2 separate regions of the Homo sapiens genome follow, and region 2 is linked to region 1. The links come from fine-mapping of genetic effects on gene expression. A gene starts in region 1. The other region holds a variant in brackets. All regions are shown on one strand. Distances are from middle to middle. Region 1 holds the start of LIN52 (lin-52 DREAM MuvB core complex component). Region 2 overlaps LIN52 (lin-52 DREAM MuvB core complex component).

What was found.
Region 2: its variant is fine-mapped to the expression of LIN52 in whole blood (INTERVAL, PIP above 0.99). The same link has a PIP of 0.9 or more in blood mononuclear cells.

What each region holds. Positions count from the first base shown.
Region 1 is chr14:74,080,562-74,088,894 of GRCh38, reverse strand. It overlaps LIN52 (lin-52 DREAM MuvB core complex component), which reads right to left and starts at 3,939. Exons shown (of 6, transcript NM_001024674.3): 1 at 3,902-3,939. The coding sequence starts at 3,920. It overlaps ALDH6A1 (aldehyde dehydrogenase 6 family member A1), which reads left to right and starts at 4,442. Exons shown (of 12, transcript NM_005589.4): 1 at 4,442-4,548. The coding sequence starts at 4,501. It also overlaps a transcript of BBOF1 not described here. RefSeq lists enhancers at 2,821-2,910, 3,851-4,030.
Region 2 is chr14:74,199,107-74,207,439 of GRCh38, reverse strand. LIN52 (lin-52 DREAM MuvB core complex component) reads right to left here. Exons shown (of 6, transcript NM_001024674.3): 6 at 5,947-8,333. Among named protein-coding and RNA genes, the nearest start is that of VSX2, 36 kb to the left of the region's middle. RefSeq lists a silencer at 5,067-5,267. The variant T/C (reference allele first, on the strand shown) is at 4,784.

The sequences.
Region 1 (8,333 bases):
CTTCCCTTGCACACAGTAGTACTCAATATTAACATTTGTTGAGTTTTTATTGTATGCTCAGTATGCTAACCAGTTGCATAACTAGTTCATTTAATGCTATAAACAGCAGTTCTTAACATTTTCTGGGTAACCACATCTCTGGAAATCTGGGAAATAAAATGAACTCACTCCCCAGAAAATATACATACGTACAAAATGTACTTTTCTCTAAACTGAATTTGTTTTGCCAAATATTCCAAAGGAATTTCCAATGGCATTTTAATTGTAAAGAACTCAACTAATACATTGCCTTAATTAAAGCATCCAAAAATTAGCTTCTCTTTGTTACCGATTTCTGAGGAATGTTCAACCATAACAAAAGTAAAGTTATTGGGCCAGGTACAGTGGCTCATGTCTGGAATCCCAGTGCTTTGGGAAGCCGAGGCAGGAAGATTGCTTGAGCCCAGGAGTTTGAGACCATCCTGGGCAACATAGTGAGACTCCATCTCTACAAAAAATAATAAGGTGGGGGCATGGTGGCTCACGCCTGTAATCCTAGCACTTTGGGAGGCCGAGGTGAGTGCATCACCTGAGGTCAGGAGTTCAAGACTAGCCTGGGCAACATGGTGAAACCCCGTCTCTACTCAAAATACAAAAATTAGCCAGGTGTGGTGGCGTGTGCCTGTTATCCCAGCTACTGGAGAGGCTGATGCATGAGAATTACTTGAACCCAGGAGGCGGAGGTTGCAGTGACCCGAGATCATGCCACAGCACTCCAGCCTGGGTGACAGAGTGAGACTCCGTCTCAAAACAAAATAAATAATAATAATAATAAATTAGCTGGGCATGGTGGTGTGAGCCTATAGTACCAGCTACTTAGGAGGCTGAGATGGGAGAATCGCTTGAGCCTTTGAGGGTGCAGTGAGCTATAATCATATCACTGCATTTCAGCATGGGCAATAGAGTGAGAGAGACCCTGTCTCTAAAAGAAAGTTAAAAAAAAATTATTGGGGGTACAATCTAATAACCTACATGGGTGACCTTATGATACCACAGTCTGGGATAGAACTCAGACTCTGCTGTGAGTCTTACTCTCATAAATTAAGTAATTAGATGGCTGTATTTGAATTTCAGTTTTCTCCTTTTCAAAGACGCTCCAGCAAATTTATCACGAAAAAGACAAAAGAGTAAATGACAAACATATTAAAATAAATATTATCTGAATTAAATTTTAAAGACAGTGACAGGTGGAACACTAAAAATAGAAGTGAAAGAGCTAGGCCGTGGAATATTTTGGAATGAGATACTTATTTAGAAGCTGAATTTAAGTTCAAAGTGCTTGACTTGATTTTTTCAGATTAAAAAGAAAACATTAGGTGGAGAGGAGTGAAACTTTGTAAGAGATGAGAATGAAAACTTAAAAATCAAGAGTGCAAATAAAGTGACCATAGAGATGGCTAGAAAAGGAAAAAAATTTAATTTTTTTTTTTTTTTTTTTTTTTGCAATGGAGTCTCGCTCTGTCCCAGGCTGGAGTGCAGTGGCGTGATCTCGGCTCACTGCAAGCTCTGCCTCCCGGGTTCACGCCATTCTCCTGCCTCAGCCTCCTGAGTAGCTGGGACTACAGGCACCCACCACCACGCCTGGCTAATTTTTTGTATTTTTTAGTAGAGACAGGGTTTCACTGTGTTAGCCAGGATGGTCTCGATCTCCTGACCTCGTGATCCACCCATCTCGCCCTCCCAAAGTGCTGGGATTACAGGCGTGAGCCACCACGCCAAGCCAAATTTAATGTTTTTAATACTCTTCCTGGCCAAAGAAAGGAAACTAAATTGAGAGATGACAGGGGAAAAAAATCAAACTCAAGGAACACATCTCTAAAATCCCCAAAGTTTGTAAAAACAATTTAAAAATAAACTAAAAAGTTTAATAACAATTACTTCTACTTGTATTACTTGGCTTTTTTTTTCAACTGTGGTGAAATATACATAAATTTTACCATTTTAATAACTTTTAAGTATACATTTCAGTGGTATTAAGTACATTAATTGTGCAATCATCACATTCATTTCCAGAATTCTTTCACCTTCCCAAACTGAAATTTGGTACCCATTAACAATAACTCCCTATTCCCTTGCCTGACTTTTTAAATGCCCTTCTTTCTGGCAAGAGAAGGACATTTTTGCAAGAGCGCACCCAGGCAGGAGAATCTCTTTTGACTCCAAACATCCATAATTTCTTTTTTTTTCCTTCTTTTTTTTCTGAGACGGGGTCTCGCTTTGTCACACAGACTGGAGTGCAGTGGCATGAACATGGTTCACTGCCGCCTCCACCCCCTGGGCTCAAGAGATTCTCTTGCCTCAGCCCCCCCAAGTAGCTGGGACTACAGGTTTGTGGCATCACACCCAGATAATTTTTGTATTTTTTTGTAGAGATGGGGTTTCACCATGTTGTCTAGGCTGGTCTTCAATTCCTGAGCTCAGGCGATCTGCCTGCCTCAGCCTCCCAAAGTGCTGGGATTAGAAGTGTGAACCACCACGCCCAGCCATAATTTCTAATACAGTATGTACCTGCGCTCACAAAATTTAAGACTCGGTTAAACTTAAAACTTAAGATCAAGTAATATATTATTTCTGCATATATCTAATCAATCTTTCAATAAATGTTAATTAAAGACCTACTGTTCGTCAGGCACTGTGCTAAACCTGGATCCAACTATGAACAAGACAAACTTGGAATTTACAATCTAGCGCAAAAGGGGCAAAGTTAACAGAGTAACTATGCTGACAAGGAAGATACTGAGATAATGAATAATGGTGGGAAAGGGCAACTCCAGATACTGTGTTCTAAGAAAGACTCTTTGGGAGGTGACATCTAAAAAGAGAACTGAAACTGAAAAAAAAAAATGTTTATATGTTTGAGTCATCTTTTGGTCTCCCAAAGCACCTAGCATTATGCCTTTCATGTAGCAGGTACTTAATATAGCTCACCTTGGCTTCAATTTCTTCATTCCTGCAATGAACTTCCAAGATTCCTTCCAAATATAAAATGTTTTTGTCTAAGGGAAGGAAACCTATATATCAATAAAATCGATATATAGTTGGGATGAGGATGGTAGAACTAAAAATGAGTTTAAAAATGACTGCAAGACCCTAACTCTCTAAAGCAGAACCAAGAGGAAAAGCATGGGAGTATACCAAAACAACTTAATTGTTACTTGAAATGACTTGCATTTTACACAATATATAAACAGAAATCGTTAATTCACTCAGCCTTAAGAAACAACACGTAAAGCAGATGGAAGACAGGTTGCGACCTGTGCAAGACGACACTTAAAAGCTCAATACTGATTCTCCTCGCGACTCTCAGGGCGAGGGGCCGAGAACGTCCCCCGCTTCTCTTGCTGCCACGGCAATGGTCCCAAACTGAGGAGACAGGAGAGAGATCATGTTTCTCTTGCGGTTCAGTATCGAGATGAGGTCAGCCAGCAGCCCTGCGAGGGTTTGTGAGAATCATTCCATCCGTGCGCTCAATCAGAAGAGAACTGATCCTTTCAATGGGTACCCCAAGGAAAAAACTACAGTAAGCCACGTCCTCCAGAAACATCTCCTCCTCGACCCTCAGCCTCGCCCAAATAGAGATAAGGAAGGCACAGGGCGACCCCCCTGTCCTTTTACCCAGAATGAGTCCCTCCCTAGTGCCCTCCTCCACACGCCTGGTACAGAGCGGGGAAACTGGGCACCTCCGGAGCTGCTGTGAAGAACCGGTGAGCTGAAGACGGCGATGGATCTCAAGAAAAAAAATAAAAGGGAAAGGAGAAGAGCCCAAGAAAGAAATGTATGTTCGAGGGGCAGAGACAGAGTGGATGTTCCCAGTAGAGCAAAGAAGGAGGCTGCAGGCAAAGATCTCTAAGCCGGCTCTTACCGTCTGTGGGAGACGCCATCTTCCAACCCATGTCACGTGACGTGGCCAACCGTCGGCGGGAAAACGAGGTTCCATAAGCCACGCCCCCAAAGAGAAACCCTATCCCCAACTCGCAGCCCAGTCTCATTCCCTCGCCTCATAGGGCAATCTTTGCCTAGCCCCGCCCCTAAGTATAGCCACGCCCCTTACGCGGATGTTGAGGTGGAGCGACTGCAAAATTCTTGAAGGGTCTTATTTACTTTTTTCAGTGGGGGGGTGGGGCCTCGGTTCCGCCCTTGGCCAATCGGAGTTCCAGGTTAGGGGGGCGTCTTCCCCGTGTGCTCGGTAGGGAGTGTCCAAGTCAGGGGCGTCTTCTCTACCTCCGCCTACGTCATTGGCTGAGGTGGCAGAGGGCGAGAGCATTTTCGCTCCTAACCAATCACTTATCCCCAGGACGGGGGTGTGAGGAGAGGAATCAGGTGTTCGGACCAGTGATTGGCTGGAGAAAATAGTCCTCCCCACCAATGAGGAAGCCTGGCAGGATGGAGGGCGAGGCCTGGCAGCTGTAGTGCTTCTGGGCAGTAGAGGCGCGGGGTGCGGAGCTAGGGCGGCCGAGAGCCATGGCGGCGCTATTGGCGGCGGCGGCAGTGCGAGCCCGGATCCTGCAGGCGAGTGAGGGTGGTGCCAAGGCACCATGAAGCTAGGAATTGGATCCTTTCCGTCCGCTCCCTGAGCCATCCTCGGGCGGGACCACCTTCTTGGCCCAACCCCTTTTTGGCCAGACCTCCTACCCGACCTGTGCGGCCCTGTCCCATGCCCAGCCCTCACTTCATAACCTCCCTGGTCCCGGATCCAACCCTGGGCTGTTACCCTTGGCCCTCTACCCTTTTACTCCTAAGCCTCCTCTTTTCTGGCTCTCGCCCACTCTCCTTCTCCAGCTCTGCCCGCTCCCTGCTGTCACTCTCTTGCCCTCATCTCTCCATCCGCCCACCGTCTTTCCTTTTTACCTCTGCACCAGCCTTCTCTCTCTCCCCCAGAAACTACTCTTTTTGGTTACTCTGTCCCCTGCCGTGAGCGTCCACTTTGCCATTGCTCCCTTCCCCCACCCTACTTCACTATCCGTGGTGATCTGAGGTAAGGGGGAGGGGGGACGCGAGGGGCGAGGGTCAGTGTATGAACTTTGAATTTCCTTCTAGAGGTGGACTCTAGATTTTCACCAAAGGCAGCCATTTGCTAAGCTATTTTCCCTAAGTGTGGCTCTTTGTATTTTCCATGGACTGGCTGTCCCCTTTCTTGCCAAAACTTTGAGTTAAACTTTTTCTCAGCTAAGTTACAGTTTACATAGATAGGGCACATCTACATAGATAGGGTAGATAAGGGCACACAGTTAAAGCTACCAGTATGTTCCATGTATGTTCAAGGTACCAAACATCTTTAAAACGGGTGATAGAAAGTGGGAGCCAGGTAAGACAAGAAGTCTAAGTTCCCACCCCAAAATCAGCTCTTCTAGTGCTACACACCCTCATCTCTGCACTTGGGGGATTGAGTCCTCTCTGAAGCCAACCTAAGGAGAAATGGTAAAGCTACAGGAGTTGCATGCCTGAGGCCTGTAATCTCCAACTCTGTTTATAGTCTTTCCCCTGTTCATGGCCTACCAAGGATTTAGAGTATGTGGCAAGATTTACCGCAGGCAAGAAACAGTCTGCAAGAAACAACAGTGCCGTTCTTATTCATTACATCCAGTCTGAGAATTTCCTCTATATTGCTGAGCTTTTAGGTAATATTAGTATTCACCAGGTTTCCGTGAGTTCTAGTAAAGAAACTTGGGCAGTTTTAAGATTCTTGGCAGAGTCAGCAAAGATTCATTTTTAAATATGCTATTTAATGGGGAAGGTAGAAAGGATGAGTTTGAAGGGTTTGGCAGATGGTCTGGCCTCACTCATATTTCTTGCTGCGATCCTTGTTCTGTTCTAGTATCTTTTTTTAGTAGCAGGAAAACAAAGTTTCCACCCTATATTTTTCTTACCAACTTCTTGAAATCTTTTACTGAAATTGGCTTTTTTCCTTTGCCTCCTCTTCCCCTCCCATCACAATGAGTCATTGAGAACCTTAAGAAAGTATTTTGTCCTTTTCCATCAAGGAGAAGAATCTCTCTTTCCATGTACTTTTATTTCAGAAACAGACACTATGTATTTTCTGATTCATTTGGAGAAACTTCTGAAGTGACCTGGAAAAGAACAGATAGAGTAATCCTCAGCCAACTAGGAGTTGTAACGTGAATCTTTGATTAAAAGTTCGATAAAAAGTAGCCTACGGGCCAGGCGCTGTAGCTCCTGCCTGTAATCCCTGCACTTTGGGAGGCCAAGGTGGGTGGATCACCTGAGGTCAGGAGTTCGAGACCAGCCTGACCAACATGGTAAAACCCCTTCTCTACTAAAAATACAAAAATTAGCCGGGTGTGGTGGCGGGCGACTGTAATCCCAGCTACTCAGGAAGTTGAGGCAGGAGAATCGCTTGAACCCGGAAGACGGAGGTTGCAGTGAGCTGAGATCGTGCCATTGCACTCCAGCCTGGGCGACAGAGCAAGACTCCATCAAAAAAAAAAAAAAAAAAAAAAAAAACCTCGATTTTGGCAGCCATGAATATTAGAGAACTATCAAAAGGATTTATAGAGGAGAAAGTTAATGTTTTCAATTATTTTAAGTATTCAGCTTATTTTTCTCTGCCACGAAGAGTAGTCAAACTTAACCTAAAACCTCTCTCTGCTCCTTGTGATATTATCACTCCCATGCAGAGATAAAGGAATGTTCGAGACAGGGTCTCGCTCTGTCACCCAGGCTGGAGTGCAGTGGTGCAATCACAACTCACAGCAGCCTCGACCTCCCACGCTGAAGTGATTCTTCCATCTCAGCCCTCCGAGTAGCTGCAACAACAGATCGTGCCCCCATGCCAGCTAATTTTTGTATTTTTTGTAGAGACAGGGTTTCACCATGTTGCCCAGGCTGGTCTTGAACTCTTAAACTCAAGCTATCCTCCCACCTCAGCCTCCCAAAGTGTTGGGACTACAGGCACGAACCGCTGCACCTGGGCAAGAAAATTACTCTTGAAGAGATGTAGCGACTTGCACTGTCGGTGATATGGTTACCGAACTAGTAACTGATGGGGCTGAAAATTCAGAACTTAAGTCTTGCCATCTCTTTCTATGTTAGGCACTGACATAGGCTTACAGTAAAATGCTCACTGAAAGCTCCTTTATTGTACTGCAATAAGTGATAAACAATAGGAGTATCTGGGATACTGTGGGGACCTAGGGAAAGAGCCAAGTATTGCAGGACTAGCAGGCCATGAACCAGGAGAGGAAGGAGTTCCTTATAAAGGATATAGCAAGTAGGAAGTAAACATCTAGAGAGCAGCAGTTTGGGGTGACTGGCCACAGGATAGTTTCTTCAGCAACAATGCTAATGGGTGTTTCTTAGGAAATGAAGAAAAGATAGAAGATCGAACCTGTCAAAAAACTATATGAATATGTTCTATTATACCAGATGTAGTGCTTTTTACATCCTCTTAACAGCAGGGAGGCTGTATACAAGTGAAAAAATAAAATTTAAGTGGCCTAGAATGCTCAAGTTGGCTGATCAGTGCATTGTCTGCCAACTTGAGAGTACTGAAACAATATCAAATGATTGCTTGGCGAGTACTCATTCTTTCATTGTGCAAAATATTGCTTACTAAGTACTTACTCTCTTCCAGGAATTGTGCTAGGGGCTGGGGACACAACAATCTAGTGACCTCAAAGGAGAGAAAGTTAATCATTAGACAAGCTATTATTTCATAGCGTGAGATGAGAAATAAAGGAATTTGGGTGCTTTATGAGCTTCACAATCAGCTGCTTACCATAGACCTGAGGTTGAGACTTCCTAGAGAAAGTGATGATGGCTGAGTGGGGACCTAAAGGAGTAGGAATGAGCCAAGGAAATTAGATGAAACAGTGCCAGGCAAGAGAGAGCAGCATGTGCAAGAGCAAAGAAAGCAAGACACACGTTAAATTGCAGGAGCATAGAGAACAGGGAGGAAAGTAGCCAGTTATGTAACTAGAAAAGCAAAGATACTATGTAGCGTTTTCTAAGCAACATCAAGGGGATTAGTCTTTATTCCAAGGGCAGTGGAAAGCCAAAGAAGAATTTTAAACAAGGGAATAATCTGACCAGATTTATGTTTCAGAAAGACCCTCTGATTATGGGATGGAAACTAGATTCAGAAAGTTTAAGAGTAGGCTGGGTGTGATGGCTCATGCCTGTAATCCCAACACTTTGGGTGGCCCAGGCAGGAGGATCGCTTGAGGCTAAGAGTTCAAAACCAGCCCTGGCAAGATAGGGAGGCCCCATCTCTACAAAAAAAAATTTTTTTTAATTAGCTGGGCATGGTGGCATGTGCCTGTACTCCTAGGTACTTG
Region 2 (8,333 bases), 120 kb before region 1:
CCCATATTCCTCCAACCAGGCAGCAAGCACTATTACCACCTTCGCCTATTGCCTTCCATTCACCACCCCACTGTAATTGTTATATCTGGCCATTTCACTTATCCTTATGACAAAACCATTTCTTCCATGATATCATAACCTCTTTGCAAACACACCAAATGGCTGCATGGCAGTTCGCTACGGGAATGTACCATGATTTACTCAACAGCTGCACATCTGAACAGCCTTTGGGCCACTTGAAGGCAGAGGCAGCAGCAGCAGAGGTGGATGGCGGGAAGTAGGAGGCCAAGGTGAAGCAGCTCGCAGGACCTTGCTTCCCCATGAGCCCCCCGACCACCATTCCTCAGAGATCATTTCTGGTTCCAATCCTCACATATCCTTCATGGGTCCTGCCACAGCCAGCACTTCTCATTTCTACTCAGCCTCAAGTCACTGACTTTCCCAACTTGACTCTTCTCAGCTGCTCCTTTGTGTGAAGTCACTGGCTCAGGCCAGCTTGGCTCCTGGGGCTTGGCTGCGTCCAGAAAGGCCCTGGGATGTGACCTTCAGCCTCGCTTGACCCTGAGGCCTCAGGCTGCAGTCAGGCGAGGGTCTCTCCATGGGCTCCCAGAGAAGGCAAAGCCCAGAGGAGGCTGCTGCGGGAGCAGAAGCCTGAGTGGACCCTGCTTAGTCCTGGAAAGGGACCTGACAGGTTTGCGAGAACCTGACAAATCTCACACCATAGAAAACTATCTGGCCCAGGCACAGTGGCTCATCCCAATACTTTGGGAGGCGGAGGTGGGCGGATCACTTGAGCCCAGGAGTTCGAGACCAGCCTGGGCAACATGGCGAAACCCCATCTCTGCAAAAAATACAAAAATTAGCCAGATGTGGTGGCACGTGCTTGTGGTCCCAACTACTTTGGAGGCTGAGGCAGGAGGACTGCTTGAGCCCAGAAGGCAGAGGTTGCAGCGAGCTGAGATCGTGCCACTGCACTCTAGCCTTGGTGACAGAGGGAGACCCTGTCTCACCAAAAAAAGGAAGGAAGGAAGGGAGGGAGGGAGGGAGGCAGGGAGGGGGGAGGGGGAGGAGTGGGGGAAGGAGGGAAGGGAAGGGAAGGGAAAGGAAAAAGAAAACTATCTGGAGGAATGTGGAGGACTGGTGGGTTAGGGGTAGGAGGTTATGACTGAATCAAACAGGGAAGTGTGTTCCTGTGCAGTGATTGGAAAAGCATGGATGCTCAGAAAATACTAGGACTACAAAGATTAGCAAAGTACAGTGATTTGAGGCTTATGTATGCCAAGTTCAGTATCAGTTCAGAAACTTGCCAATGTCACAAAGTATACCTTTCCCTCCCTTGCTTAATGCCACTGTCTGTAGAGTCAACAATGGTTTCTACTGAGTGTCCATGCTGGCACAGGGCCTCAGTGGGTGGAAGGATGGGGGTAGGAGAAATAGTAAACTGTCAGCTCTTCTGAAGGGTTACAGAAATGGTATTCTGCTTAACTGACTAGTCAAGGTAACCAGAAGTTACTATATTTTCCCTATAGGGATTGCCAATGTTTTTTTTGTTTGTCGTTTGTTTTTGTGTGAGACAGTCTCACTCTGTCACCCAGTGTGGAGTGCAGTGGTGCAATCTCAGATCACTGCAACTTCTGCCTCCCAGGTTCAAGCAATTCCCTTCCCTCAGCCTCCTGAGTAGCTGGGAGTACAGGCACCTGCCACCCTGCACAGCTAAATTTTTTTGTATTTTTTCATTTTTTTTTTATAGTAGAGACGGGGTTTTGCCATGTTGGCCAGGCTGGTCTTGAACTCCTGACTTCAAGTGATCCACCCGCCTCAGCCTCCCAAAGTGCTGGGATTACAGGTGTGAGCCACCATGTCCGGCCTAGGGATTGTCAATTTTTAACAAATGTGAGTATAATAAAAAATTAAATACTACATGGAATCTGTTTTATAGATCTATCCATCAAGCAATTATATACGTAATGGGTAAGATATGCCATGCACCATTCTCAACACTTTGCAATACTCGTTTAATCTCTACAGCTACCCTAGTAGTTAGGTGCTATTTGCACCCAGGCAGCCTGACTTCAGAGCCTGTGCCCTTATCCATGATGCTGATATGACTCTTTAAAGTGGAAAAAGTCCTAAGGAAACCAAGGCTTAGAGAGAAGTAACTTACACAAGATCACCCCTGCCTCTCTCTCAAAATCCAAGCACTTACTATATCTTAGACCAGCAATGAGGCTATGAACACCGAATGTCAAGGCACAGTTCATTCTTTCAACAAATGCTTATTTTAGCACCTATTATGTGCCAGGTAGTTCTGTTTATAACCAAAGAAACTGTAGGAAATTGAACAAATTTGGATCAATTCTTTGGCATGTCCCAAAAGTTATTTTTAAAAGTCAAATCTTATCATTATCCTCTCTGTGCCTCAGAAAACTGAAGGTAGAAAAACAATGCAACTCTGATTACTTGAGTTTTTTGGCTCCTCAGATTCTACATAACTGAATCTCCTTTGGTATTGGAGGTCACTTTCAGAAACATCAGGTATAGAGATCGAGACAGAAAGCAGAGGGCAAGAGAGAGATGAAAATATGTGAGCCCAATTCTGCTCCGAACTTGGGTTTAATTGAGATTCCAACTGCCACTCTCCCCTGCATTCCTTTGTCCCTGGCTATGACCAAGTTTACGGCTGTATCGCCCCAAGTAATCCCCGTAATGGGCTGCAATCCTGGGGGAGCTGTTTTTGTTCATTAAGTGACCAACCTCTGAGCCACATGGAGCGCGGCCAGTTACAGCTTCTTGCCCTGGCAGATGGGCCACTTTTCTGTTTTAAAAAAACAGGGATCTTTCAGGAGAGAGGAGATAGTAGGCAGGGGTTGGGGACACAATCAGGGACATAAAGGTGATGGGTGCTAGAAATGAAGGCCAGAGTGAGGGGGGCAGTGGGTGCCCCTTCCAGGTCATGCAGTCTTCTAGGGCAGAATTCACTCACGTGCTGTGTGTTAGCTTTCTTTGCAATGGTAACTATAGTTGTGTAGGGCTTACAGTTTGTGAAGGGCTCAATGTAGTTCCTGGAGTGATGCTACCAGTCTGCAGAGGTGGGAGGAGTGAGGGGGCCATAGACAGGAGGCAGCGAATGAACAGAGTAGGGCAAATAGCTGAGAGGGGGCTTCCCCTGAGGGTCAGAAATTCTCAGTGCTTCAGACTCCAGCTCAAGTGACAGGGGCCAGGCTGTGCCAAGAGCAGTTCTCTCAAGCCAACTGACTCTTACCTCTCTGCCCACAGCCCCAGTGTCTGCTTCTTGAAGTTGGGGAAACATTGCAGCAGCTGCTTGTTGGGAGACCCGTCCCCTCACTGCACTGCCCCACCCCCTCCCCGCCACCTGCCCCACCACCCCATGTCTGTCCTCTGGGTAGAGTTGTGTGAAGCGGAAGACAATTTGGGGCTTATTAGTGTCCCAGGGAGACATGTAACTTGTGTTGCTGGGACCCAAACAGCAAGAGTCTTAGCGGCAAACTCCAGCCGAGAAAAGACTGAGGAATTGTCTCACCTAATTACAGGGAATGGCCCTCTTTGTGTTTGTGATTCGGTACGGTTGTCCGATCGCTTTTGATCGCTTTTCTCTATTTGCTGGCTCAGGCCATGCTGGAATTGTGCTAATTAGAAGAGAAATGGACAGAGTGATCCTGTCAGCCCTGGTTACTGGTGGGGACAAAGCAGAATATTATTCTGAGGCAGTGTTTTGTGAGGGCCCTTCTTCCAGCTCTCATTAGGAGGAAGGGGCCCACAGGAGGGGAAGGTTCCAAATGCCTGGCCCAGCTAATGGAGCACTGGGGTGTTTCTGTGCTAATTAACAGGCTTTGCCAGCACTCACGCCAACCAGGAGCCTCACAGTTACACCTGGTATCGTCTGAAGCCCCCAGCTGCTCGAGAGGAAAAAGCGCCAGGCAAAGGGTGGGAAGGCCAGTGGCCTCTTTAGGCATAGACAAGGACACACACCCCAAATGCCAAAAAGCCTACATAGATAGGAAAAATCAGTTCCAGTCCATCAGAACTTACAACCGTGGAGACACCACCCTTTGCCACTCTCTGGGGTTGGGGGTTGCAAGACTCTCTGGTGAAACAAAGCCCACATAGGGACCAGGTATCCTTGTAGCTCTCACGAGATGAAGAAAACAGAAAATGGAGAACATAACCAAATTCTTGGAGACGGAGTTAGTGCAGAAGCTGAGAACTGGTAAGAGACTGTGTTATTTGGCTTCTGCGACCATCCACCTTGGCCCAACTGTCCATTTCCTCACTTCCTGCTCTGCCTGTTCACCTTCTTGTGATGTCTTAATCCTGGAGGAAACAGGAGGGGTCAGGGAATCCCACTGGAAATGAAATTTCTCGGCTTCATTTCAAAGCTCCTGTGGAAGTCCAAACACACTTCTGAAGCCACAGGGACAAGGGAATGACTTTCATCAGTTCCATTTTCACTGCCTTGATCTGGGAGCATCCAGAAGAGCAGCTAGAGAACTAAAACCACGGAGCAGTTAGCAAGCATCCATTTAAAAAATATGACAAAAATGGAAAGATAAAAATGAATGATGGCATTTCAATATCAACACAATTAATACCCTGTGAACTTTAAGTGTTCTAACCTATGGAAGGCAGGCCAAGCAAATCAGCAGAGGCCTAGAATCTGTGAGACTGAAGACAGCAAGAAATAATGAGAGTGCTGGTAAGAAAAAAATGTCAATAAGAATTTGCAAATGTGTCTCCAAGCTCCAATACTATGCTTTTCAGAATG[T/C]TGCTGCTCACAGCTGACAGATGCTTTACAGGATGGTATTTGGAATGGCAAAGGAAAAGGGAAAAAATATCTGTAGGCAAATAATAAACAATTACTTACCGTAAAAATAGTCTCTAAAGACTTAGAACACTCCTAACACTGTCCCTACTTAGTCAATCAGCCATGCTTTTCTAGATCACAGAAATCTACTGTTCATCCAGATGTCTTTTTTGGAAATAAATGATGGGCCTATGATGAGAAGCAATTTGCTTTCCTTAAAATGAAATGCTTTCTTTAAAAGGGCATATTCTGGTCCAGAGCAGGTAAACTATCAATGAGTGATAGCAGTAGCAATAATGAGTACTTCCTCTTTTCTAGTTCTTGAACATGGTTGAAAAGGAACCCACACTAAGGGATTTAGAAGATGGCAGATAAATACTTGTTTTCAATCTATCATGTGTAACCAGAAGCCTGCAAGCAAACAGGTTTTGAACCCCTAGTTCAAAGACACTGAAGAACTAGATGTGCAGGAGACAGCTATACCTTGAGAAGCTTTGAATTTAGTAGGGCAATAAGATATGTACTCAGTGTCAGGCGTAGTGGCTCACACCTGTAATCCCAGCACTTTGGGAGGCCGAGGCGGGAGGATCACTTGAGGCCAGGAGTTCGAGACCAGCCTGGCCAACTTGGCAAAAACCCGTCTCTACTAAAAATACAAAAATTAGCTGGGCGTGGTGGCATGCACCTGTAATCCCAGCTACTAGGGTGGCTGAGGCAGAGAATCGCTTGAACCCGGGAGGCAGAGGTTGCAGTGAGCCAAAATTGCACCACTGCACTCCAGCCTGGGCAACAGAGTGAGACTCTGTCTCAAAAAGAAAAAGTACTCAGACCACTTAAATATAAGGCAGACTATGGTAAGAGTCACAGGGATGATATGGGTAAATGCTATAGGAATGTAGGGGAAGGACCATTTCCAGCTGGATCATCAGGAGATTATAGGAAGCATAGGTTTGCCAGATGCAAAAGGGATCCAAGACCTTCTAGGAACTCAAAGGCAGGAGCAAAGGCACTCAAGTGAGAAACTGGGAACTGTTCAGAGTAACTGCAACAGAGACTTCATATATAGGAGAGGAAGAAAACGAAACGGAAGGGTTGCTTAGGATTACATGTAGAGAGTCTTAAAATGCCGGGTCAAGAGATTGAGACTTTATTAGTAGACACGGGAAGGTATTAAGGGTTTCTAAATACTACTTTCGGGTGTTGGGCAGTGGTAGGATAGAATGGAAGGCAGGAGACCAAGTAGATGACTGTAAAGCCCCCAACTATCCATTAAGTATATTAAGGGGGAAAACAGTAGATTATTTATCATTACAGTTGTACTTTCTGGGGAGGTCTGTGCTTTAAATATCCAACTCGGCCCTCTGAGGAAAAACTCACCCTCCTGTAAAAGGGACATATTTATTATGAAGACACAAAAACCATCACATACAAAGTACAATACTATAACATCCTGAAATACATATACACACATACTGTACATAAATTTATATTATCAATATAAAAATACATCATTAACATTTCTAAGGATGACAAATACTAAACCAATAAATATTGCAATTCTAAAACATCTACTTACATTAAGTGCTGGTGAATAGGATGACGGTAAAAGAAAGAGGACAAAGCGGACCAGAAAACCAACCACCTGGCTTCCAGTTACAGACTTGAGTTGGTTTGGGGGAGGTATCCCAATCAATTTCCCCAAACACTGAAAAGTGCCTGATGTCATCAACTCTCAAAAACAGAGCAAAGGAAGAATTTGACATTATGGCACTATTTTTTGGCCACATGCGCGCGCGCACACACACACACACACTCTTCAACCGCATTTAGTGAGATACAGAAATATCAATCGATAATAAGTTTAAATTAAAATCAAAGCCCCTACAACCTAACCTTCTATGTAGCACCCCAGCAGAATGTTTTACTTCTCATACTCATCTTTCCTATCTTGTGTTAAGTCTTTTTTCCTTTCAATAAGTAAAACTACATTGATGGTCAAATGAGAGAAAAATCCAGCATTAATTCTAGCATGAGAACAAGGCACAAATGTCAGAAAAGGTTTAATGGATCAGCTGTTAAACTGAAGAGTGCCATGCCCTAGCAAACACTCACGACTCAAAACCATAACTTTTCTTGTGTCCAAACACCATCAGACTATTGCCACAGGGATATTCTTTTTTTTTTTTTTTTTTTTTTTTTTTTTCTGAGACAGAGTCTCACTCTGTTGCCCAGGCTGGAGTGCAGTGGCATAATTTCGGCTCACTGCAACCTCCACCTCCCGAATTCAAGCGATTCTCGTGCCTCAGGCCCCCAAGTAGCTGGGACTATAGGCATGCACCATCATGCCCAGCTAATTTTTGTATTTTAGTAGAGACAGGGTTTCACCATATTGGCCAGGATGGTCTCGATCTTTTGACCTATGATCCACCTGCCTCGGCCTCCCAAAGTGCTGGGATTACAGGCGTGAGCCACCATGCCCGGCCCCAGGATATTCTTTTGTGCAAAGTTTAGGAAACTCCATGCACTTCTCAAAACATCAGATGCTGGGGACTGGCTTATACAAGAAATATGGAGAACACATATAATAGATTTTAGCCATGGGCTAGATTTTCAGATTTTAACAGAGACAGATAAGTGGTGAAGAACTCCATGAAAGTTGTATTTAAGTCAGAAGATTCTTTTTCGTGTGTGTGCGTTTCTATTATATAGATGAACTATTTCATATGTGCTGTCAGAGGGGACAATCCCACCATCCCATAGCATGTTACTTTAAGGTCAATTAGGGCTTCTAGCTTTCAACCAAATGGGAACTCCTATAAACCATCCCGTTTCTCTTGTCTTTCAGGCTATACTGACTTTCTTGCTTGAAGCTGTAACAGATTAATTAGAACTCAAAAGTCCTTTCTGTCACCTTCACATTGGTCTTTAGACAACCTTGGATGGGCCTTTCACTATACAAGCTAATTCCAGGAGGGACTCAGGGATCCCTCTGCCCGAAGTCAGAACTAGAAGGTGGGGCTGGGAAGTAAGGAATGAAAAGCAAATGGGACTATCATAAGAGGTATAGAAGTTTTAAAAAACAGATATACATTTCGAGAAGATTCTGGTTTCTTCAGCTGGGGATTCTGGGAACTTAGTATATACTGGAGAGTTCACAGGTCAGGCTGCATGGTCTGGTCCAGAATCTACTTGGTCTCTGGTCTCCTCACATCGTAAACACTTTCTAAGAGATCAAGAACAATTCAAAAGAACCCATCCAATCAACATGTCACAACTGACTGCCATGACTGAGTCAAATCAACCGTAAGATCCTGGGGCTCCTGAATCACTTCCAGAAATGAGAAAGCAGGACTTCGACCTTTAAGAATGATATGCCCTCAGCTGTTACCAATATCCGAGGCTAAGAAGGTTCAAGTCTGAAAGTTGATTGAGTAACTGCAATGATCCTTGGGTAGAGCAGATTCTTCTCTTGCTGCTGAATGTCCTCAGACGTGTAGAGTGCCAGGAGCAG